Homo sapiens: one gene and its partners. The protein of the gene in region 3 purifies or fractionates together with the protein of the main gene of each other region. This does not show direct contact. Each region holds a gene or a part of one and is shown on either strand. Other genes may lie near its edges. The genes, in order: EEF1A2, HBA2, NXPH2, CELSR1, UBR1, UBR2 and CELSR2.

The links.
Region 1: the proteins of NXPH2 (region 3) and EEF1A2 purify together in Homo sapiens (affinity purification with mass spectrometry; 3 studies listed by BioGRID and IntAct, with this or other methods). This does not show direct contact.
Region 2: the proteins of NXPH2 (region 3) and HBA2 purify together in Homo sapiens (affinity purification with mass spectrometry, with the first as the bait; 3 studies listed by BioGRID). This does not show direct contact.
Region 4: the proteins of NXPH2 (region 3) and CELSR1 purify together in Homo sapiens (affinity purification with mass spectrometry; 3 studies listed by BioGRID and IntAct, with this or other methods). This does not show direct contact.
Region 5: the proteins of NXPH2 (region 3) and UBR1 purify together in Homo sapiens (affinity purification with mass spectrometry; 3 studies listed by BioGRID and IntAct, with this or other methods). This does not show direct contact.
Region 6: the proteins of NXPH2 (region 3) and UBR2 purify together in Homo sapiens (affinity purification with mass spectrometry; 2 studies listed by BioGRID and IntAct, with this or other methods). This does not show direct contact.
Region 7: the proteins of NXPH2 (region 3) and CELSR2 purify together in Homo sapiens (affinity purification with mass spectrometry; 3 studies listed by BioGRID and IntAct, with this or other methods). This does not show direct contact.

Annotation. Positions count from the first base shown.
Region 1 is NC_000020.11:63,492,584-63,496,083, reverse strand, and holds part of EEF1A2 (elongation factor 1-alpha 2), read left to right. Parts: intron 1-48; coding exon 49-228; intron 229-982; coding exon 983-1,279; intron 1,280-2,796; coding exon 2,797-2,947; intron 2,948-3,500. UniProt on the Homo sapiens protein: Translation elongation factor that catalyzes the GTP-dependent binding of aminoacyl-tRNA (aa-tRNA) to the A-site of ribosomes during the elongation phase of protein synthesis.
Region 2 is NC_000016.10:171,665-174,210, reverse strand, and holds HBA2 (hemoglobin subunit alpha), read right to left. Parts: upstream 1,336-2,546; 5' UTR 1,299-1,335; coding exon 1,204-1,298; intron 1,087-1,203; coding exon 882-1,086; intron 740-881; coding exon 611-739; 3' UTR 501-610; downstream 1-500. UniProt on the Homo sapiens protein: Involved in oxygen transport from the lung to the various peripheral tissues.
Region 3 is NC_000002.12:138,770,391-138,773,890, reverse strand, and holds part of NXPH2 (neurexophilin-2 precursor), read left to right. Parts: intron 1-3,500. UniProt on the Homo sapiens protein: May be signaling molecules that resemble neuropeptides and that act by binding to alpha-neurexins and possibly other receptors.
Region 4 is NC_000022.11:46,384,121-46,387,620, reverse strand, and holds part of CELSR1 (cadherin EGF LAG seven-pass G-type receptor 1 isoform 1 precursor), read left to right. Parts: intron 1-1,035; coding exon 1,036-1,219; intron 1,220-2,934; coding exon 2,935-3,078; intron 3,079-3,500. UniProt on the Homo sapiens protein: Receptor that may have an important role in cell/cell signaling during nervous system formation.
Region 5 is NC_000015.10:43,054,039-43,057,538, reverse strand, and holds part of UBR1 (E3 ubiquitin-protein ligase UBR1), read left to right. Parts: intron 1-1,096; coding exon 1,097-1,195; intron 1,196-2,639; coding exon 2,640-2,797; intron 2,798-3,500. UniProt on the Homo sapiens protein: E3 ubiquitin-protein ligase which is a component of the N-end rule pathway. Recognizes and binds proteins bearing specific N-terminal residues that are destabilizing according to the N-end rule, leading to their ubiquitination and subsequent degradation.
Region 6 is NC_000006.12:42,686,029-42,689,528, forward strand, and holds part of UBR2 (E3 ubiquitin-protein ligase UBR2), read left to right. Parts: intron 1-2,187; coding exon 2,188-2,358; intron 2,359-2,958; coding exon of another isoform or gene 2,959-2,980; exon of another isoform or gene 2,981-3,500. UniProt on the Homo sapiens protein: E3 ubiquitin-protein ligase which is a component of the N-end rule pathway.
Region 7 is NC_000001.11:109,256,039-109,259,538, forward strand, and holds part of CELSR2 (cadherin EGF LAG seven-pass G-type receptor 2 precursor), read left to right. Parts: intron 1-2,393; coding exon 2,394-3,041; intron 3,042-3,500. UniProt on the Homo sapiens protein: Receptor that may have an important role in cell/cell signaling during nervous system formation.

The DNA of each region.
Region 1 (3,500 bases), on a different chromosome or scaffold from region 3:
TCCTGGGTCCCGGGTCCCGCCCTCAGCCGTGACCCTCACCCGCTCCAGATGGGGAAGGGATCCTTCAAGTATGCCTGGGTGCTGGACAAGCTGAAGGCGGAGCGTGAGCGCGGCATCACCATCGACATCTCCCTCTGGAAGTTCGAGACCACCAAGTACTACATCACCATCATCGATGCCCCCGGCCACCGCGACTTCATCAAGAACATGATCACGGGTACATCCCAGGTGAGCAGGGCACAGCAGGCGGGGCTGGGGGAGAGGCCGCTGCACCCTTCAAGGGACACTGGGGGCCCCTGGGGTCACTGGGATGGTAGGGTCTCCTGTGCTTCCTGTGAGGGCAGGGGACCCCTCACCTGGGCCACCCTCACCCAGTCTGGCTCAGAGCCCCCCTAAGGATGAATCCAGTGCTCTGGCATCTGAACCAGTGCCTGTGAAGGCATCCAGCCAGTGTCAGAGTCCCCAGATAGATGGGGGCAGATGGGGACGTGGACACACCTTCATACATGGAGGGGTTGGAGGCCAGGATGGGGAGAGTGAGCAGTGGGCAGAGGTGCCACCCGCCAGGTGTAGACTGTATGACATTTCAGGGCACTCACAGAGACGCACGGACACCCCAGACACAGCACCCTGCAGACAGCAGGACACATGCCACCACCTCCAAACTGCTTTGATAACTGTGACTTCTATCCGTCCTCAAGTGAGGAACAGGAGCAGATAGGCTGAGTGACTTGTCCAGGGACACACAGCCCACTGGTGGTGGAGCCAGGGCTGAACCTCGGTCCCCTGACCCAGGGCCTGGCGATGAGCCCCCATGCTGCCCTTGAAGTGGGGACCCCCATGCCTCCCTCCCCAAGGCCCCAGTGGGCTGCTCAGGCCCCAGCCCGCTGCCTGGAGAGGCCTGGAAGTGAGGTGGGGCCAGGCTCGCTCTGTCCCCTGCCAGGCAGGCGGGGCAGGGCTCACTGTGTCCCCTGCCGGGCAGGCGGACTGCGCAGTGCTGATCGTGGCGGCGGGCGTGGGCGAGTTCGAGGCGGGCATCTCCAAGAATGGGCAGACGCGGGAGCATGCCCTGCTGGCCTACACGCTGGGTGTGAAGCAGCTCATCGTGGGCGTGAACAAAATGGACTCCACAGAGCCGGCCTACAGCGAGAAGCGCTACGACGAGATCGTCAAGGAAGTCAGCGCCTACATCAAGAAGATCGGCTACAACCCGGCCACCGTGCCCTTTGTGCCCATCTCCGGCTGGCACGGTGACAACATGCTGGAGCCCTCCCCCAACGTGAGTGGCGGCTAGGGCGGGGCGGGCCACGGGAGCTGGCTGGACCCCCTGGCCCAGAGCGAGGCACCGGCAGGTGGCACGGGGAGGTCGAGGGCCTGTCCCCGGGAAATGCAGGTTCCCCTCGAAACCTGCTGGGTTTCCCTAACTGGCTCAGGGCCCGGCGGGGAGCCCCATGCCCCTCAGCACCGGGCTTTGCTCCTACACTCAGCCTCCCACGCGGCTGGCCGGGGCCAGGGCCCATCTACGATGTCAACACAGCAGGGGCAGCGGCCTCCAGCACCAGGCCCATGTGCTTGGTCTCCAGAGCCCTGCCATGGGGGCGGTCGGTTTCATCTCTGCCAGGCCATTGTCCTGGTCCTGGACACCGTGCAGGGGCTTTGGGCTGGGCCGTGGGGGCCTCCTTGGCTGCCTCCCCTGGGATCTTGGAGCAGGGTTGGGCTTTGGGAAGTGTGCATGCTTCTGGGCTTGCTGGGATGGCCAAGGGTTGGCTCTTGGCCGGTCACCTGGGAGCTCAACGTGCGAACAGTCTGTAGCCCAGGGACTCTGCCTTGGCTGGAGGTGACGCGTGGAGACACTTGCAGAACCTGAGACTGTTCCCAGGGTTCTCCAAGCCAGAGGAGACCCCAGAATGGCCACCACTAGGCTCTGCCAGCACTGTCGCTGCCCACAGTGAGGGTGCAGGTGTGGAGTCTAGAGACAGCAGGGAGACAGACCAGCAGCACTGAGCCTGGAGCTGAGGTCTGGGGACAGAACTGGGAGGGACTCCCCCAGCTCCGCCTCCATCTCACGAGGCTCGGTGTTGTTTACCTGTGATGGCGTTTTCCTCATGGGGTATCATGTGGCGAACGCCACTCTCCCCTCCCCAGGGAGGCCTCCAGCCATCAGGGACCCTGCACTCCCCTCTGGCCTGAGCTGCTAGGTGGCTCGTGCTTACACAGGCCCTGGGGGGCTGGGGCACTGTGCTGCCGGCCCCCTCCCCTGCTCCCTGTTTGTGGCAGGTGGCCCAGAGGGAGGCTTCATGGGATGGGAGTGGGGGCCACACTAGGAGAAGCTCCGGACAAGGCTGGGCCAAGCTCGGAGGCAGCACGGTGTCCAGAAGCTAGGGTGGGGCGAGGCTCCTCCAGCTCTGTCCCTGGCCTGGCCCTTGGCCAGACTCAGCATCCTCCTAGTCAAGTCATCTGCCCTGCCTGGAGCTGATGGTCAGGGGCCCGGGGTTTCGGGGACTTGGGGCTGGACTGGGGATTTGTTCACAGTGTCAGCAACTCCTGAGCAGCCTGGGCTGGGAAGGGTGCTTTCCCTCTTTGTCCTCCTCCTTTTAAGAGGGATCTCCTTCCCAGAGTCCCTGTGATGCTGGGGCTATGGGCTGGGGAGGAGCAGGGTGGGGAAATTCCTCATCTCAAAGGGCACGAGGCAAGTTTAGCCTGAACAGCAGTACTCCTGGAAGCACCCTGGGGAGGCCTGAGGGTGGGGAGGCCACCAATGTCTCTTAACGGATTGATTTTCTCCCTTTGGTCCAGATGCCGTGGTTCAAGGGCTGGAAGGTGGAGCGTAAGGAGGGCAACGCAAGCGGCGTGTCCCTGCTGGAGGCCCTGGACACCATCCTGCCCCCCACGCGCCCCACGGACAAGCCCCTGCGCCTGCCGCTGCAGGACGTGTACAAGATTGGCGGTGAGCAAGGGCGCTGTGCTGGAGCTCCTGCCTGGCCAGCTCTGCCTGCCCTAGACCAGGGGCCCCTACAAGGCATCTCAAGACTGGGCTGTCTCCAATCTCTCCCCTTACCACACACTTTCTGTGGGACAGTCCATCCCACATCCATCCATCCATCCACCCACCTCCCCACCCATCCATCCTCTGTCCATCCATCCACCCATCCATCTATCCACCTCTCCATCCATCTATCTATCCATCCATCCATCCATCGATCCATCCATCTCCCCACCCATCCATCCTTCACTCCATCCATCCATCCATCCATTGTCCCATCCATCCTTCTCTCTATCGAACCATCCCTCCATCTCTCCATCTATCCACCTCCCCACCCATCCATCCTTCTGTCCATCAATCCATCCATCCATCCATCCATCCACCTCTCCATCCATCCATCCATCTCCCCACCCATCCATCCTTCTCTCTATCCATCCATCCATCCATCCATCCATTGATTGTCCCACCCATCCATCCTTCTCTCTATCCCTCCATCCATCCATCCATGCATCCATCC
Region 2 (2,546 bases), on a different chromosome or scaffold from region 3:
CACTGACTGGGCTGCTCTCAGAGGGTCACCGTGACACAGGAAGTGTGAGTAGGGCCAGCACCCTCACTCCAGCCACCTACCCTCTGGCAGGAAGGGGTGGGAATGAGAGAAATGTTCTGGCACCTGCACTTGCACTGGGGACAGCCTATTTTGCTAGTTTGTTTTGTTTCGTTTTGTTTTGATGGAGAGCGTATGTTAACTGGGTTCAACCAGGGAGATTTCAAAGGAGGGTGGCGATGCTGGGACTCCCTGAGTAGAACCCTGGATGCCTCTCTCCTCCCCAGCTTCTGAGCCACTGCCTGCAGGCCTGGCACCTCTCAGGACAGGGGATGGTTCAGCACCTTCTCTTGAGCAGGCCCACCTCAGCTTCCCCTCCCATACTCCCTGCAGTTCTCCCTCCCCAGCCCCATGCAGCTGCAGAGAGGTCCTTGGTCTGAGACAGGTAAACACCTCCATTGTTGGCACATTCCGGGATAGAGAGAACCCAGGCACACACAGGCTGCTGCCCACTCAGACTTTATTCAAAGACCAGGAAGGGCCGGTGCAAGGAGGGGAGGAGGGCCCGTTGGGAGGCCCAGCGGGCAGGAGGAACGGCTACCGAGGCTCCAGCTTAACGGTATTTGGAGGTCAGCACGGTGCTCACAGAAGCCAGGAACTTGTCCAGGGAGGCGTGCACCGCAGGGGTGAACTCGGCGGGGAGGTGGGCGGCCAGGGTCACCAGCAGGCAGTGGCTTAGGAGCTGTGCAGAGAAGAGGGTCAGTGCGGCCCAGGCCCGCAGCCGCCGCCTGCGCTACACCTCCCGCAACCCGCGTGATCCTCTGCCCTGAGAGGAAGGCGCCATCTCGCCCCTCGACCCAGATCGCTCCCGGCCCGCCGCTCACCTTGAAGTTGACCGGGTCCACCCGAAGCTTGTGCGCGTGCAGGTCGCTCAGGGCGGACAGCGCGTTGGGCATGTCGTCCACGTGCGCCACGGCGTTGGTCAGCGCGTCGGCCACCTTCTTGCCGTGGCCCTTAACCTGGGCAGAGCCGTGGCTCAGGTCGAAGTGCGGGAAGTAGGTCTTGGTGGTGGGGAAGGACAGGAACATCCTGCGGGGAGAAGCAGAGTGAGGGGTGGGGTTTGGGTCCGGGGCCAGGACGGTTGAGGGTGGCCTGTGGGTCCGGGCGGGCGAGGAGCCCGGGTCGGAGCAGGGGAGGGAGCCTCACCTCTCCAGGGCCTCCGCACCATACTCGCCAGCGTGCGCGCCGACCTTACCCCAGGCGGCCTTGACGTTGGTCTTGTCGGCAGGAGACAGCACCATGGTGGGTTCTCTCTGAGTCTGTGGGGACCAGAAGAGTGCCGGCCCGCGAGCGCGCCAGGGTTTATGCTTGGGGCGCGGGGGCACGCCCGGCCGGGCGGCGCTCATTGGCTGGCGCGGAGCCCGGGGCGCGGCCTGGACCGCAGGGGAGTCCCGGGCGGGGCCTGCGCGGGGCCGGGCGGCGGGCTCGGCCTCCCCTGGGGGTGCACGCGGGGCGGGGGCCAGGACGTCTCCACCCTCCACCCGCCACTCCACTCCCGCCCATCCCGCTCGCCCGGGGGCAGGGCGGTAGCGGCGCTGGCGGGGCCGGCCCGTTGGGGTCGGGCGCTGTCGGCTCGTGCACCCCGGAGCGCAGCGCCACCCTTTCCTTTCGGGCGCCGGAGCGTCCCTAGCGAGGGAGAAAGTCAGCCCGCACCCCCGCCCCGGCCTGGCACGCGCTGGACGCGCATCGACTCCAGCGGGATCGGGGAACACACGGGCGAGCGAGTGCGAGCCGGAGGGCTTCGCCCAATCCTGGGGCGGAGAGGAATGCGCGCACCCGGACGCCCTGGCCCATAGGAACTCAAAAGAATTTCTGCGCAGAGCCCCTCCTGCTCTCCAGCCTCGCTTCCTGCAGCTCCCTTTCCCTCTGGCGATAGTCACTAGTGTGCTTGAGTGACAGGCACCGGGAAGGAACAAACACCAGGACGCAAAAAGCACGGGGCTGGGCTGGGGGCGGCTCCAGATTCAGACTCCTCTACCCGGGGTTGTGGGGTGGCGCGTGGGGTGGTGGGTGCTGGCTAAGCCCCAAGTCATGGACTCACAGTTTGTGTGACTGACTCTCCCACTGGCCTAGAGGTCGTGGTTCACTGTGACACCCCCAGCTCTCCAAATGCTATCTGATGGAAGACTTGCTAGGTAAATACTGGTTGTAAACAGATAAACAAACTTGGCTCTGGGTAGGGAAAGGACAGGGGAGAGAAGGCCCCTGTGGTTGCAGAATGTAGGTGAGGGGATGTGGGGTGAGGAAGGAAGGGGTGGACTTGGCGAGGGGGAGGGTGGGAGGTGCAGGAGTGCCAGTGGGTGCATCCCTGCTCATGAAAAGTGATGGTTTGGCCAGGCTCGGTGGCTCACGCCTGTAATCCCAGCACTTTGGGAGGCCAAGGCGGGTGGATCAGCTGAGGTCGGGAGTTCGAGACCAGGCTGACCAACATGGAGAAACCCCGTCTCTACTAAAAATACAAAAATTAGCTGGGTGTGGTGGTGCACGCC
Region 3 (3,500 bases):
AAACAGAAAGACTAACTATTCCTGGGATTCAATCCAACTGTAAGCACGTAAATGTCTCTACAAATGAAACTTGACTTTGAGATATTGCTGCTTTTTTGCCACATAAAGTGATTCTAAGGTCATTAAAAACAAAATTTACATAAATTGTGTAAGTCTTTTCATGCAAGAATATGCAAGATTATGATTTTCAAGCTTTATCATATATAATGATAATTTTTAAATCTTATCAATTTAAGTTATATAGCAGGTATATTTATTCGCCCAAAACAGTAATTTAAGAAATAATGTATATTATTCAAAGGGAAAGAACACTTATGTAGTATGGCTGTTAAAAACACATGTGATTTCTATTCCCAAATTCCATTCCTCATTTGTGTGTGTAGACAGCTACTGAAAGTGGTTGATTAGTATAAAAATCTGTATGATCTTTTCAATGGATAATGCATACAATAAACGACTAGGGACCATAAAGCATCATTTAACATTTTGTAGTAATGATAACAGGAATATGTATTAATGAAGTTTTGCACTTGGATAGTTCAAACAGGAGACGATTGGGATTGGCTTGAGGAATATGGCTATGGAAATGGAAAAAAAGATGAAGTTTTCAAAAGCGTGTTTTCCGTAGTCTCGAATTTACCTGTTGCTCCTGTGTTGCTGACTCTCCAGCTTGTATCTCAGTTCCTACCCTGTTGCTCAGGCTCCAAGCCGGTGTCTCCATAACTTACTGTTCTGTTTTACTTGGATGTTTTACTGTTAACTCACACTCAACATGTGCAAGGCCACACACATCTGTGCTGAACAAGTGCCTTCCAACATTCATGGATTTGGATCTTGAAGTCACCACCATCCCATTTTTAATGTTTGGAGCCTTTGTGCTAAGACAAGTGACAGGATGTAAAGCACTACATGGTTTGCAAAATTCTTTCGTGGTTAATCTGTGCATCAGCTCTGAAAAGTAAGTAGAATGATAGTTATTGCATCCATTTTACAGGTGAAGCAACAAAAGCACACCACAGGTTTCAGAGACAGACTGTAGACTGCACAGATTGTAAATTCGAATCATCCACTTTGATGATGAGTGCTGTCTTTCTAGGTACTCATCACTGACACCCAGAGTGATGGACTTGAGGGACATTTCTAGGAAACATCCCACTCTGCTCAGTGACCACTGAGCTAGAAACCTTAATTCATTCATCTTAGCTTTGCCATAAAGTCAAATAAGTTGAATAGAACAAATGAATTCTTGGGGCATTTCTTTAATCTGGAGTTCTATTTAGAATTTAACCTCATGGGCCGGGCGCGGTGGCTCACCCCTGTAGTCCCAGCACTTTGAGAGGTCGAGGTGGGGAGATCACCTGAGGTCGGGAGTTCGAGACCAGCTTGACCAACATGGAGAAACCCCGTCTCTACTAAAAAATACAAAATTAGCCAGGCGTGGTGGCGCATGCCTGTAATCCCAGCTACCTGGGAGGCTGAGGCAGGAGAATTGCTTGAATCCAAGAGGCAGAGGTTGTGTTGAGCCAAGATCGTGCCATTGCACTCCAGCTTGGGCAATAAGAGTGCAACTCTGTCTCTAAATAAATAAATAATAAAATTTAACCTCATGGAGGCCAGTTGCCAAGGGTCTCAGCTTTAATGCCATTTTCATGTTAAGTTAGTAGCCAAGTAATGTGGCTCCAGTTAGGATCAGCAGAGGTTTTGAGAGTTCCTCTAACTTTTCAGGATCTCACCTATACCACTCCAGATGGAAAAGATAAAAAGGAGAGAGAAAGTGTGGGTTCACGGGCTGCTAAACCCTGGTTTTCTAGTGGACAGGTAGGAATATGAGGACAAGCAGGTGGGTGAGGGAACCTGTCTAGTAGGTGCCCAGACTTGTGTAGAATTTGAGAGCATTAATATATAATTTTACTTTACTAGTAGCACATGGCTTTTGCTCTCTTTTTCTTTCTTTTAATGAAAATATGTATTTTATTATAAAAGTAATATTGTAGTGGATGTTATTGGTTCTCCACCCAGATTTCTTTTGGGGAGGCACTTTGCCAGAATGCACTCAGAGCCACAGGTGCCATTCACTTCCTCTGGAAAGCTCTTGACTAGTGACTGACAGATGTCAGAGTATGAAAGCCCAGCTGCCTTGCCCCGACTCTGGACAGCTCCCAGATATAACTGAGGTGAAACAGATAATCTCGGTCTTCCCTGCAGGAGCAGGCTGAAGCTACCCTCTGCAAGACTTTGCCTGAGATCACGCACTTCCATGACTTTTTTCCCATTCTTTCACCAGCTGCCCTGCTCCCTTAGCAAGGCTTCCCCGGAAGTGCTTCTGTTTTAAATCAATAGCCCTCAAATACTTGCTTCAGCCTGTCCTTCTGGGGAACTCCATCTAAGATTTCTGTTTAATTTTTTTTTTTTTTAGTACTACTCAGAATTTCTTTAAGTAGCCATCCTCACCCCTGCCTGCTTTCTGCCACCTCATACCTTATACTCAGGGCATTATTAATAGTTTAACGTATGTCTTTCCAGATATTATGGATATGTATGCTTTTATAATAATTATATCATGCACAGTACCATGTTCTGTAACAAGCTTTTTTAATGCAATAGCATATTTTGGCTACTTTGATAGAGCAACTTATATTTTTAAAGATTCACTGTATTTCATGGCATTGATATGCCATAATATATTTAATCTTTCTAATTAATATTTAAATTGTTTTGAATTCTTTAATATAGTTGTAAGTATACCTGTAACACAAATTCCTAGAATTGAAAATGTTGGTTCAATTGAGAATGTATATATTGAATTTTGATAATTATAAATGTTTTCTGAAATGATTGTACCAATATAAGGTATTACATTGTATGTGCATGCCTGTATCACACTACCTGAATACTGGTATTTAAAAAAAAATTTTTGACAATCTATTAAAGGAAAGTACTTCATTGTTTTTAACATGTATTGTATACTGTATTACTTATCAGGTATATAAAGCATGTTTTCACATTTAATAACCATTTGTATTTCTTATTTTGTGAATTGCCTTTTTAAGTAATTTCCTGTGTTTCAGTTTTTTACAGCCTTTAAATTTTATAGTTTCTTTTTAATATTGCTCACGCACAATTGTTCTTTATTATTCCTGAATATCTGGTACATTATTAGGTTGTTATGGATATCTTTTTTATGGCTGACATTTTAAAATTCATTTTTGCTGGAATGTAAGGAAAACTATTTATTTTTGTATGTTTATGTTTGTATCTGTTCTATTTCTGAACTCAGTTATTAGTTGTAATATTTTTTATTTGATTCCCCTGGATTTTATGTCTAGACAATCATATCATCTGCAAATAATCTTATATTTGACTCTTTTTATTGAACATTATGTCTCATATTAAAATTTACTCTCCTAGAGAACTGTATAGAATCTTCAAAATATTATTGAATAATTCTGAAATTAAGCATGTTCTCATGTTTCCAACTTTAACATAAACTTTACTAAGTA
Region 4 (3,500 bases), on a different chromosome or scaffold from region 3:
TTGGGAGGCCGAGATGGGCAGATTGCCTGAGCCCAGGAGTTCGAGACCAGCCTGGGCAACATGGTGAAACCCTGTCTCTTCTAAAATATGAAAAAAATCAGCTGGGCGGGGTGGTGGGAGGCTGAGGCACGAGAATTGCTTGAACCCGGGAGGCAGAGGCTGCAGTGAGCCAAGACTGTGCCACTGCACTCCAGGCTGGACAACAAAGTGAAACTCTGTCTCAAAAAACAAAAACAAAACAAACAAACAAAAAGACTTCCTTATCTATTTGAATTCAACTTTGATTAATGTTTGATCCTATTTATAAACTTAGACCATGAAATTCCCCTAAGTATTTTAAATGGAATTAATATATGTCATGTAGTTGATTTTTTGTTTTGTATTTCAATTGTTCGGCTAGCAAACAGACCTTCCAAGCATTTAAGCAGTGCTTGTACATCTAGTAAATTAAGCTAAGAATATGAAGCATCTTTAATTCTCTAGATTTTAATATACTTTGTGAGCTTAGTAACATTTTTTTATTCCTCTTAAGATAAACTTTTTGAAAAAATATTTGGGAACTAGGCCAGGCGTGGTGGCTCACGCCTGTAATCCCAGCACTTTGGGAGGCCGAGGCAGGTGAATCACCTGAGGTCAGGAGTTCAAAACCAGCCTGGCCAACATGGTGAAGCCCCGTCTCTACTAAAAATACAAAAATTAGCCGGGTGTGGTGGCACATGTGTGCCTGTAATCCCAGCTACTCGGGAGGTTGAAGCAAGAGAATTCCTTGAACCCAGGAGGCGGAGGTTGCAGTGAGCCGAGATGACACCACTGCATTCCAGCCTGGGCGACAAGAGCGGAAGTGTGTCTCAAAAAAAAACACAAAAAACAACAAAAAACAAAAAACAACTAATATTAAAGAGCACAGTCTAAAGTGTAGGGCTGGAATGAATGAATGAGCCCACTAGGCAAGCAAAGGCTTTCAGGGCAGGTGTCCCTCCGTCCCACGAGCCAGGCCTCCGCAGGCTGAGTACTGAGTGCTGTCTGTCTGACCAGGACGTCATCCACTCGGGCAGCGCCCTCCTGGCCCCAGCCACCAGGGCGGCGTGGGAGCAGATCCAGCGGAGCGAGGGCGGCACGGCACAGCTGCTCCGGCGCCTCGAGGGCTACTTCAGCAACGTGGCACGCAACGTGCGGCGGACGTACCTGCGGCCCTTCGTCATCGTCACCGCCAACATGAGTAAGGCGCTGGCTGCGTTGGGGGTGGAACCCTGCTACCATCAGGGGTGTGCCCCAGAGCTAGGCCCCCATGGGGTGAAGCAGGTGGGCTCCCGGCCCCCCCTTGGCCATGCTCTTAGAAAAATGATTGTGAGGCCGGGCACAGTGGCTCATACCTGTAATCCCAGCACTTTGGGAGATCGGGACAGGCAGACCACATGAGGTCAGGAGTTGGAGACCAGCCTGGGCAAAATGGTGAAACCCCATCTCTACTAAAAATACAAAAAGTAGCCAGGTGTGGTGGTGCATGCCTGTAATCCCAGCTACTCAGGAGGCTGAGGAAGGAGAATCACTTGAACCTGGGAGGCAGAGGTTGCAGTGAGCTGAGATTGCGCCATTGCACTCCAGCATGGGTGACAGAGCGAGACTCCATCTCAAAAAAAAAAAAGCCGGGCGCGGTGGCTCACGCCTGTAATCCCAGCAATTTGGGAGGCCAAGGTGGGCGGATCACAGGGTCAGGAGATCAAGACCATCCTGGCTAACATGGTGAAACCCCGTCTCTACTAAAAATACAAAAAAGTAGCCGGTCGTGGTGGTGGGCGTTTGTAGTCCCAGCTACTCGGGAGGCTGAGGCAGGAGAATGGCGTGAACCCGGGAAGCGGAGCTTGCAGTGAGCCGAGATCATGCCACTGCACTCCAGCCTGGGCGAGAGAGCCAGACTCCGTCTCAAAAAAAAAAAAAAAAAAAAATATTCGGCAGGTAGGCCTCTGTTTCCTCATCTGTAAATGGAGCCTTTGGGAAGACAGTCTGTGATGACGTACCCGTGGCTCCCAGGGGACAGGTCCCGGGCTAGGGAGATGTTGGGCCATGATCTTGGGGGTCCGGCAGGGCTTCCAAACCCTCAGGTGTGAGACTCTAGAAGGGTGGGTGTCGAGGACCCCGCCTCACTCCAGGCTCACTGTAGACAGGTGTAAGTACAGGCGGGATGCAGGAAGTTGGAAGTCAGTTCTGTTCTAAAGATGGTCAGTCAGCTGGGCGTGGTAGTTCACACCTGTAATCCCAGCACTGGGAGGCTGAGATGGGCAGATTGCTTGAGCCCAGGAGTTCGAAACCAGCCAGGCGCCATAGTGAGACCCTGTCTCTATTAAAAATAAAAAATAAAAATTAGCCAGGTGTGGTAGCATGCTCCTGTATTCCCAGCTACTTGAGGCTGAGGTGGGAGGATCGCTTGAGCGCAGGAGGACGAGGCTACAGTGAGCTGAGATTGTGCTACTGCACTCCAGCCTGGGTGATAGAGTGAGATCCTGTCTCAAAAATAAATATAAGTAAATAGGCTGGGCGTGGTGGCTCATGCCTGTAATCCCAGCACTTTGGAAAGCCGGGGCATGCAAATTACTTGAGGTCAGGAGTTTGAGACCAGCCTGGCCGACATGATGAAATCCCATCTCTACCAAAAATACAAAAAATTAGCCAGGCGTGGTGGTGCCTGCCTGTAATCCCAGCTACTTGGGAGGCTGAGGCAGGAGATATTGCTTGAATCTGGGAGGCGGAGGTTGCAGTGAGCTGAGATTGCGCTACTGCACTCCAGCCTGGGAGACACTGCGAGACTCCACCTCAAAAATAAATAAATAAATATGGCCAGCCAGCGTCAGTGTGACAGTTGTGGTCATTTTGAAAACAGCAGGGGTTCAAGAAAGCCCTGGGAGTTATGTCTGATTAAAGGAACTGTCCCCCCAGTTCTTGCTGTCGACATCTTTGACAAGTTCAACTTTACGGGAGCCAGGGTCCCGCGATTCGACACCATCCATGAAGAGTTCCCCAGGGAGCTGGAGTCCTCCGTCTCCTTCCCAGCCGACTTCTTCAGACCACCTGAAGAAAAAGGTAAAACCGCTTAGAAACCTGCTGCTGCCCTCGGAGTCCCCAGCGTTCAGGGAGGGGAGGGCCCCGCTGCGGGCATCGCAGGACCTGCGCACTGAAGATCTGGGCCAGAGTGTTCCGAGTGCTCTCTGGTGCCAGGTCCTGTTGGTGACAGCAGGTTGTTTTGTTCAAGTGCTCAGGTACAGGCTGAACATCCTAATCCTGAAATCTGAAATGCCCCAGAACCTGAACCTTCTTGAGCACCAACCTGACACTTAAAGGAAATGCTCATTGGAGCGTAAGCATGAAACAATAAAAAAATCAAAATCCAGGCCAGGCGCGGCGGCTCACGCCTGTAATCCCAGCACTTTGGGAGGCCGAGGCGGGCAGATCACCTGAGGTCAGGAGTTCGAGACCAGCCTGGCCAACGTGGTAAAACCCCGTCT
Region 5 (3,500 bases), on a different chromosome or scaffold from region 3:
CTATCTACCAAATTAGATTGCAAGGGTATACAGATCAAGGACTCCTTTGAATCTTTTATTTTGCCTTATATAAGGCAATCATACTTGCCAGTCATACTTGTTGATTTCCTCTGATTTTGAGTTGCAGTCAATTCTGTAAGACTTAAGATAGATATAGGACCCAAGATGGAATTGGAAGCAGAGAAAGAAATAATGATTGTTGTAGGCAAATGACACTGTGGGATAAGATACCTGCATTACCTGGATTTTATATGCAGACTTAAAAGTAACTAAGACATTTGTTGTATGTCTTATCCTTCAGCAGTGATGGCAACTCAAGATGTTCTCTTCTAAAACTCTTCAGATATAGAATATTGGACCATATGTGTGATCTGAAATGAAATTTTGTTTTCTTATACAAAAGCTAATCTCCCTACTTAGATGATTTTTTTTGTACACCATGGTTACCCCTTAAACTTTGTAGGAATTCTGGAGGGTAAAGTATCTAACTTAAAGTAGGTTAAGTATCCAACTTTGTGCCTTACACATAATAGATGCCTATTATGTGACTGAGTATATTCCTATTTTTGTTCTCCCAGTATATCAGGGTTGTTTTGCAGCTGTTATGTACCAGTATGGGAAAGAAGTTATTTGCAGCCAGCATCCATTCTGTTTAAGGCTGGATTCAATCTGATTGGTTGGTTTTTCTGGGTCATATCAGTTGTTAAATACTTTGAATATATTCCCTGCCCAATACCATTAGAGTGGAAGCTGCTAAAGATTGCCCCAGATTCTGTTTGGAGAAAGGATAAACTATACCATTGCAGTCCTCTGTTTTTTGTTTGTTTGTTTGTTTGTTTTTTAACCTATGTGTATATTTTAATAGTTTCCACTTCTATCTCTGCTAAATTGAGTAGGTGAATTTTTACTTGATTTGTTGTTTGTTATTCTCCTTCTAAGATATTTTTGCTGATCATAATATCTTGCCTTAATAAATAGGAATTATATTACTTGACATTTTATAGATAGAAACAAACCTGCAGCAGTTATTAAAATTGGGATTTTTTAAAGGTCTTTAGTAGTGATTTATAATTGATTCTCTACTTATATATTTCAGTATTATAAACAACTGCAGAAAGAATATATCAGTGATGATCATGACAGAAGTATCTCTATAACTGCACTTTCAGTTCAGATGTTTACTGTTCCTACTCTGGTATGTATTGATTATTCCTTTTCAGTCTTTCTAAGTAAAACTTGTTTTGCTTTGTAAGAATTCCACTTAATGTTGAATCAAATTAGAACAATGTTAGAATCACTAAGTTGGGCTATGTGAATACTTTAGTGCTACCCAAGGACTAGTTAACTAGGCGCTGCCTTGGTTCAGATGTCCTCGTCAATGCAGATGACACCTAGAGCTGGTTTCTTACTTTCTAGAGTAACTTATGAACACTGCCTTTTCAATACCAAAAATATTTTATTTTTAAGTTATTGTTTGTAGGCAGATAGAATAAGATAAAACTAAGAAGTGGGAGGGTGTGCCTGTCAAGCATTTGGGAGAGAGGGTGCTGCATAGGCCTGGGAGGAGAGTGGAAGATTCTGCTTCCTTTGTATACCACTTCTTTTCTTTGTTTTTTGTTTCTTGAGACAGAGTCTTGGCTGGGTTGCCCTGGCTGGAGTGCAATGGGACGACCTGGGCTCACTGCAGCCTCCGCCTCCCGGGTTCAAGCGATTCTCATGCCTCAGCCACCCAAGTAGCTGGGACTACGGGCAGGCACCACCACGCCTGGTTGATTTTTGTATTTTTAGTAGAGACGGGGTTTCACCATGTTGGCCAGGCTGGTCTCAAACTCCTGACCTCAGGTGATCTGCCAGCCTTAGCCTCCCAAAGTGCTGGGATTACAAGTGTGAGCCACCGCGCCCAGCCCTACTTCTTTTCTTGTCTGGAATTAGATAGTTATCCAAACTTGGTTAATTGTTTCTACTTTACTTTTTCAAAAGGATGGAGAGGAGAGTTTAGATTGGGGTAAGGAGGAGATTTCAGAATAGATCGTAGTGTGCTAGAAGTCATGAAGTATATCTTTGTTATACTTGCTCATTGTGTGATTTTTTTTTTTGAGATGAAGTCTCTCTCTGTCACTCAGGCTGGGGTGTAGTAGCACGATCTCGGCTCACTGCAACCTCCGCCTCCTGGTTCAAGCGATTCTCCTGCCTCAGCCTCCTGAATAACTGAGATTACAGGCATTGCCACCACACCTGGCTAATTTTTGTATTTTTTGTGGAGATGGGGTTTTGCCATGTTGACCAGGATAGTCTCGAACTCCTGAGTTCAGGTGATCCGCCTGCCTCGGCCTCCCAAAGTCCTGGGATTACAGGCATGAGCCACCACATTACTGATGATAAACATTTATCTAGATAACCTGTCTAATGGGCTTGGAGTATCCAGATAGGTGTTGTCTAGTTACTGAGGAGTAGGGAATTTTTTCTTTTAGAAAATAACTTCTTAGTAGTTGCTATTCAGTGAAACTAAGGACTGTGTTTAACATTCAATAACAAACATTTATTAAAAATGACATACTGACTAACCAAATGAATGAATAAATTAAGTCCATACCACAATGAGTTAATGCTAAAGAAAATATTCTTGAAATATTCCGCAGGCTCGACATCTTATTGAAGAGCAGAATGTTATCTCTGTCATTACTGAAACTCTGCTAGAAGTTTTACCTGAGTACTTGGACAGGAACAATAAATTCAACTTCCAGGGTTATAGCCAGGACAAATTGGGAAGAGTATATGCAGTAATATGTGACCTAAAGTAAGTTGTTCAAGTCAAAAGGTGAGGGCACCTGTTAAACTCAGTGTGCTTATTTGCTGTGTCTTATAAGTAATCCTGTGATCATTTTGGTTATCCAGAATTCTCTTTATAATGATGGCAAGTACAAAGAACTGTTACTGCCTCGCGTTAATAAATGTCTTCAGTGAAGGCTTCTTATTGAGTTGTAAAACCTGGTTAGTAAAGAAGGTATTGAGGAGAGGCCCATTACAGGAACTTGGGATCTCCTGGGGTCACCAAATGCATTGCCATTGTAATTACCATACTTTTCATTCACTTCCACTCACACACTTTGGTTCTGTCCTTCCTATATAGTCTCTTTGTGCATAGTTTCAGACAATCTATTGACATAAATTTCTTTCTTTTTTTTTTTGAGACAGGGTCTCGCTGTGTTGCCCAAGCTGGAGTGCAGTGATGCAAACATGGCTCACTGAAGCCTCAACCTCCTGGGCTCCAGTGATCCTCCTGCCTCAGCCTCCCATGTAGCTGGGACCACAGGCACGTGCCACCATGCCTGGCAAATTTTTTATTGTTTTGTAGAGACGGAGTCTCACTTTTTGTTGCCCAGGCTGACTTGGACTCCTGGGGTCAAGCAGTCCTTCTGCTTTGGCCTCCCATAGTGTTGGGATTACAGTCATGAGCTACTGCGGCTGGCTGTTAACATTTTTTTAACTCCTTTTTGCTA
Region 6 (3,500 bases), on a different chromosome or scaffold from region 3:
AACTATATAAGTTTCTATTCTTGAGCAGCATGTATTGTTATTTTGTATGTTTTTTTTTTAATTAGTATTTATTGATCATTCTTGGGTGTTTCTCGGAGGGGGGGATTTGGCAGGGTCATAGGACAATAGTGGAGGGAAGGTCAGCAGATAAAGATGTGAACAAAGGTCTCTGGTTTTCCTAGGCAGAGGTCCCTGCGGCCTTCCGCAGTGTTTGTGTCCCTGGGTACTTGAGATTAGGGAGTGGTGATGACTCTTAACGAGCATGCTGCCTTCAAGCATCTGTTTAACAAAGCACATCTTGCACCGCCCTTAATCCATTTAACCCTTAGTGGACACAGCACATGTTTCAGAGAGCACGGGGTTGGGGGTAAGGTTATAGATTAACAGCATCCCAAGGCAGAAGAATTTTTCTTAGTACAGAACAAAATGGAGTCTCCTATGTCTACTTCTTTCTACACAGACACAGTAACAATCTGATCTCTCTTTCTTTTCCCCACATTTCCCCCTTTTCTATTCGACAAAACCGCCATCGTCATCACGGCCTGTTGTCAATGAGCTGTTGGTTGCACCTCCCAGATGGGGTGGCGGCCAGGTAGAGAGGCTCCTCACTTCCCAGACGGGGCAGCCGGGCAGAGGCGCCCCCCACCTCCCGGACGGGGCGGCTGGCCGGGTGGGAGCTGCCCCCCACCTCCCGGACGGGGCAGCTGGCCGGGTAGGGGCTGCCCCCCACCTCCCGGACTGGGCGGCTGCTGGGCGGAGACGCTCCTCACTTCCCAGACGGGGCGGCTGCCGGGCGGAGGGGCTCCTCACTTCTCAGACGGGGCAGCCGGTCGGAGACACTCCTCACCTCCCAGACAGGGTCGCGGCCGGGCAGAGGCGCTCCTCACATCCCAGACGGGGCGGCGGGGCAGAGGCGCTCCCCACATCCCAGACGATGGGCGGCCGGGCAGAGACGCTCCTCACTTCCTAGACGGGATGACGGCCAGGAAGAGGGGCTCCTCACTTCTCAGACTGGGCGGCCGGGCAGAGACGCTCGTCACTTCCTAGACGGGGTGGCGGCCGGGCAGAGGCTGCAATCTCCGCACTTTGGGAGGCCAAGGCAGGCGGCTGGGAGGTGGAGGTTGTAGCGAGCCGAGATCGCGCCACTGCACTCCAGCCTGGGCAACATTGAGCACTGAGTGAGCAAGACTCCCTCTGCAATCCTGGCACCTCGGGAGGCCGAGGCTGGCAGATCACTCGCCGTCAGGAGCTGGAGACCAGCCCGGCCAACACGGCGAAACCCCGTCTCCACCAAAAAATACAAAAACCAGTCAGGCGTGGCGGCGCGCGCCTGCAATCCCAGGCACTGGGCAGGCTGAGACAGGAGAATCAGGCAGGGAGGTTGCAGTGAGCCAAGATGGCGGCAGTACAGTCCAGCCTCGGCTCGGCATCAGAGGGAGACTGTGCAAAGGGGAGAGGGAGAGAAGAGAGGGAGAGGGAGAGCTGTATGTTGTATTTTATTTTATTTATTTATTTATTTATTTATTTATTGAGACAGGGTCTCACTCTGTTGCCCAGGCTGGAGTGCAGTGGTGTGATCTTGGCTCACAGCAACCTCCGCCTCCCAGGTTCAAGTGATTCTCCAGTCTCAGCCTCCAAAGTAGCTGGGACTACAGGTGCACACCACCATGCCTGGCTAATTTTTGTATTTTTAGTAGAGACGGGGTTTCACCATATTGGTCAGGCTGGTCTCAAACTCCTGACCTCAGTTGATCCACCCACCTTTGCCTCCCAAAGTGCTGGGATTACAGGCGTGAGCCACTGCACCCAGCCAATTTTGCATTCATTCAGCATTGTTTCTAAGATTTATCTGTATTGACGTTTATAACTTTATTGATTTTTCATTGCTCCATAGTATTTTATTATATGGCAGTGGTACCGTTTATCTTTTTCTCCTATTGATGATTTTATTTATTTTTTTTTCTCCAGTTACTGATTCTTTTGAGTGTTTCCAGTACATGGTCTTTGTATATATGTGCAAGATGTTTCCTATTCCAGATTCTAGGAATAAACTTGCATAGACTGTAGGATATACACTTCTTTGGCTTTACTTGATATTGCAGAATTCTTTTCTGGGCTGGTTTTTTCATCACTAGCTCTTTAGCCACTCTTTAGATCAATGACTTGTGGGTTTTTTATCCCTTGGAGGTGCCCGAAATCAGGTGGTGATAAGAGCAGAGCCCCAACTCTGTGCCTTGTGTGCGGATCTCTGCTGTGCTCCCAGAGTTACTGCTGCCAGACTGAACTGGAAGGGGAGGATGTAGGAGCCTGCACAGCTCACACCTACTCCTGTGGCTCTGGAGTGGGCATCTTCCTGAGGTAAGGACCTGCAGGGGCTTTTTAGCTTTGGATCTGCCTCAGTATCTGACTGTTAGGGTGTCACAGGAAACTACTATATTGCCAGGAATTTTGAGACTACTGTTCCGTGTGATTCATTCCAGAAACGTGGAGCTCCTTGTCGCCTCACATCTCACATCTGGTCCATGCCAACTCTGTGTTGGTTCTTTTATTGTTACCATTCCCACTCCTCTTCCCTCAACCATAGGTGACAGTTCTGTTCTACTTTCTCCATGTCTCCCACTAATGTGAAACTTCTCTGATTTTCTGAACAAATCCAGTCAGAATTACTCTTTCTGTTATGTCCTCATGGCTTTTGGATTTTACCTCCACTTATACATATTATCACAACTCTACATGCCAGCTTGTGATTAGTGACTACTATGTACCAGGCATTGAGGATGCAGTAGTCCACAGTGCAAAGATCTCTGCCCTTATGGATGGAGCTTGTTTTGTATGAGAGAGAGGACAAGCAAGACTGACAAGAATTTAGATAGTGATATAGGCTAAGGAGAAAAAATAAAGCAGGGAAGGGGAATATGAAATGGCAGCTATGGAGCTAAATTTGAGATTTAATTTTAGTAGATCAGGGAAGGCTTCCTAAGAACATGACTTCTGAGTAAAGACCTAAAGAAGTGGGAGAACATTCTACTCAGAACATTCTGCACAGTTCCTGGGGTAGAAATGTGCCTGTCTGCTCAAGGCAAGGAGGCGCGTGTCACTGGAGTGTTGTGCACAGGTGAGAGAATCCAGGGGCCTGCTGTGTGCTGGTGACATCTCTGGGCAAGGTGTAAGCCATTTCAGGGTTTGAAGCAGAGGCATGACATGAGTGTGGGCTCCTCTGGAGCATAGGTTGTATCCATAGCTTAGTCATCCCCCCAGTACCTTGATAATTTCTTATACGTATTAGGTCCTCAATAAATGTCTGTTTAATTGTGCTGTACTATTAATGCCAGAAAAAGGCAAATGTCTCAAAGGGATCAGGGGACACAAATTTGACTCGATTCAACCTATTTCCTAGTTTGTGCACAATTTTTTAATGGATAACTTCCTCCTAATAGTGGTTTAAATATCAGTACTATAAGACTTCATTCTATTTGGAACTGAATACAAATGTTGGTTAC
Region 7 (3,500 bases), on a different chromosome or scaffold from region 3:
ATCAGTTATGGGCACTGTGTGTGGAGTCTTGGGCTGCTTTCTGCCTGGAGGGAATATCCCGTCAAGGAATCATTAGGCAGATATACCAGGTATACAAGAGCTCTGTGCCAGCTGAGCATCCTGGTGCGGGGAAGTCTGAAACGGAGAGGAAAGTAGAGCCTGATGACATAAATCTGGGCAGGCTTCCTGGAGCAGGTGAGCTAGGGCAGGTTAGAAGACTCAGAGGACTGTGGGCTGGTGTCTGGGTGGGAAGGAACAGCCTGTGCAGCAGCTTTGAGACGAGAGCAGGAGGAACAGAAGTGGGTGATGACAAGCAGGCTTGCTGGTGAGAGCTAGTGAGAATAAGCAAGTGATGAGGCTGGAGGGTAGGTGGGCAGTCGGCTGAGGACATGGCTGAGATGGGGGTCTGCTTTCAGCCTTCCCGGCTTCAGCTGAGCCACCGCTGGTACAGTCAGCCACCGCAAGTAGGTACAACACAGATGCAGAATTTGTTCCCATGTCCCTTGCCTACTCCCACCCCACCCCAGAAACATGGGCTCCTGCCCCGTTACTGCTAGGGTAAGCATTTGCTTTTTATATCTAGTTGGGCTCCCCCTGCTATGTGGTTTTGTTTGTTTGTTTGGGACAGAGTCTCACTCTGTCACCCAGGCTGGAGTACAATGGCGCGATCTCGGCTCACTGCAACCTCTGCCTCCTGGGTTCAAGCAATTCTCCTGCCTCAGCCTCCTGAGTATCTGGGACCTCCTGAGTAGCTGAGATTACAGGCACCCACCACCACGCCCAACTAATTTTTGTATTTTTAGTAGAGACGGGGTTTCACCATGTTGGTCAGTCTGATCTCGAACTCCTGACCTCGTGATCCACCCGCCTCAGCCTCCCAAAGTTCTGGGACTACAGGCGTGAGCCACTGCGCCCGGCCCCCTGCTATGTTTTAAAGTCCGTTTATTCTTTGTGGAGACTGAATAGATTGTCATCCACATCTCAGTGTTTTCTGAACACCTACTATGTGTAAGGCATTGTAATAAATACAAATATGAATATGCCAGTAGCTCATGCCTGTAATCCCAGTGCTCTAGAAGGCTGAGATGGAGGATCACTTGAGGCCAGGAATTTGAGACCAGCCTGGACAACACAGCAAGACCCCATCTCTACACACAAACAAAAATTAGCCAGGCATAGTTGTGAGCACCTGTGGTCTCAGCTATTTGGGAGGTTGAGGTGGGAGGATCGCTTGAGCCCAGGAGTTCGAGGCTACAGTGAGCTATGATCGTGCCACTGCTCTCCAGTGTAGGCGACAGAGAGTCTGTCTCTTAAAAAAAAAAAAAAAAAGACTATCCCTTCTTGCCCTGTAAAGCCATTTCCTCCTTCTCCAGGCCCCAGCTTTCATTTTTTAGCTAAATAAAATTCATTCCCATGTGTATGTGCATTCAGGTGTGTATGGTATTTCTGGGCTTAGGGTGTGTGGGTGGAATGAGACACCAGCAAGTGTGTTTTAGTGCTTAGCTGTTTATAAGTGAGTGTGTTGCCTGGGGGCATAGCAGGCATTTGGGTGTAATGGTTGAGCCAAGTGGGTGATGAGTAGCTAGAGGCCCTAGGACCAGAGAAGAGACTGACTCAGTGGGGCTCTGGGGTCTCAGAGTGGAGAGCTGCCCAGGCCCTTCTATCTCTGCCTTCCGGTCCCCCACCCCGACTCACCCTGTCTCCAGCATGGGGCAGTGGGTGATGATGTCACTGGTTAACGTGGCTCAGCTGGATTTCCTGGGGTGGGGCCCCCCAGGCTACCCACAGCAGCCCAGAGAGTTGGGCGGGAAGAATGCTTTGTGTTGGATGTTGCCATGGGGATAGCAGGTCTGCGCGCCCAAGCAGCCATGGGGCTCAGTGGGAGGGGGACTAGGTGGCCCACTGACCCAGTTTACCCACTCCCCCCCACCCCCGCCAACTCCCTGCTGCTGTGGGGGAGTGGGGAACACAGCCATGGTTGCGATTATCGTGGTGTTGAGGTGTAGAGGCTGAGGGGGCAGGGGGATGATTTTTGTGGGTCTCAGGATGCTCTGGGCCCTGTAGAAAAGTATGAAAAAGACAACATAGGGTTCCCGCGCAGGCAGCACAGACTCTGGGGGAAGGGAGCAGGAGCGGTGGCTTGGGCAGGGAAAGGTGCACAAACATTAAGAGGTGTGCCGTGCATCAGCGACAGAAGGTTTTGGGAAAGGATGCAAAGAGAACTGCAAATCTCATCCCCTGAGCCCTGAAGGAGTGATTGGCCCACACGTGACATACCTGGCTCAGCACCCTTATGCCAGTTGGAAAGGAGAGCCTTTCTTGGTGGGTGGTGCAGGAATATGCAGGCTGAATTGCAGCCCCAGGCTGGGTCCTGACTGTGTCCCTCTCCACAGACGGCGTACACAGCGTGACCGCCCAGTGCGCGCTGCGTGTGACCATCATCACCGATGAGATGCTCACCCACAGCATCACGCTGCGCCTGGAGGACATGTCACCCGAGCGCTTCCTGTCACCACTGCTAGGCCTCTTCATCCAGGCGGTGGCCGCCACGCTGGCCACGCCACCGGACCACGTGGTGGTCTTCAACGTACAGCGGGACACCGACGCCCCCGGGGGCCACATCCTCAACGTGAGCCTGTCGGTGGGCCAGCCGCCAGGGCCCGGGGGCGGGCCGCCCTTCCTGCCCTCTGAGGACCTGCAGGAGCGCCTATACCTCAACCGCAGCCTGCTGACGGCCATCTCGGCACAGCGCGTGCTGCCCTTCGACGACAACATCTGCCTGCGGGAGCCCTGCGAGAACTACATGCGCTGCGTGTCGGTGCTGCGCTTCGACTCCTCCGCGCCCTTCATCGCCTCCTCCTCCGTGCTCTTCCGGCCCATCCACCCCGTCGGAGGGCTGCGCTGCCGCTGCCCGCCCGGCTTCACGGGTGACTACTGCGAGACCGAGGTGGACCTCTGCTACTCGCGGCCCTGTGGCCCCCACGGGCGCTGCCGCAGCCGCGAGGGCGGCTACACCTGCCTCTGTCGTGATGGCTACACGGGTGAGCCAAGGGAGGGGACTCATGGGCCAGCCCTGGAAGGCTGACTGTGTGGTGCAGGCACAAATCAGGACAAATGCTGGCGGCTGCCTCATTCTCTTCCCGAGTGAGGTGCAGCTACACTGAGAGGTCATAAATCCGGCCTGCTCCCTGACAGCACCCCACTGAGGAAGGCAGTGCAAGGAGTGCTTCTCCCTGCTGTGCACAGGACACACAGGCAGTGCCATTGTGGGCAGAGCTGGCTCCAGAGCCAGTCGGCCTGTGTTCGTGTATCAGCTTTGCCGCTAGTAGCTGTGTGACCTTGAACAAGTTACTTAACCTTTCTGGCCCTCGGTTATTTGAAATGGAGATAATGACCGTACTTAGGTCATAAGTTGGTTGTGAGGATTAATGTAATTAATTTGATACTTGGAAACAGCTGGTGGCATGGAAGGTGTTGGCCTTGATTTAAGGGAACGCTGA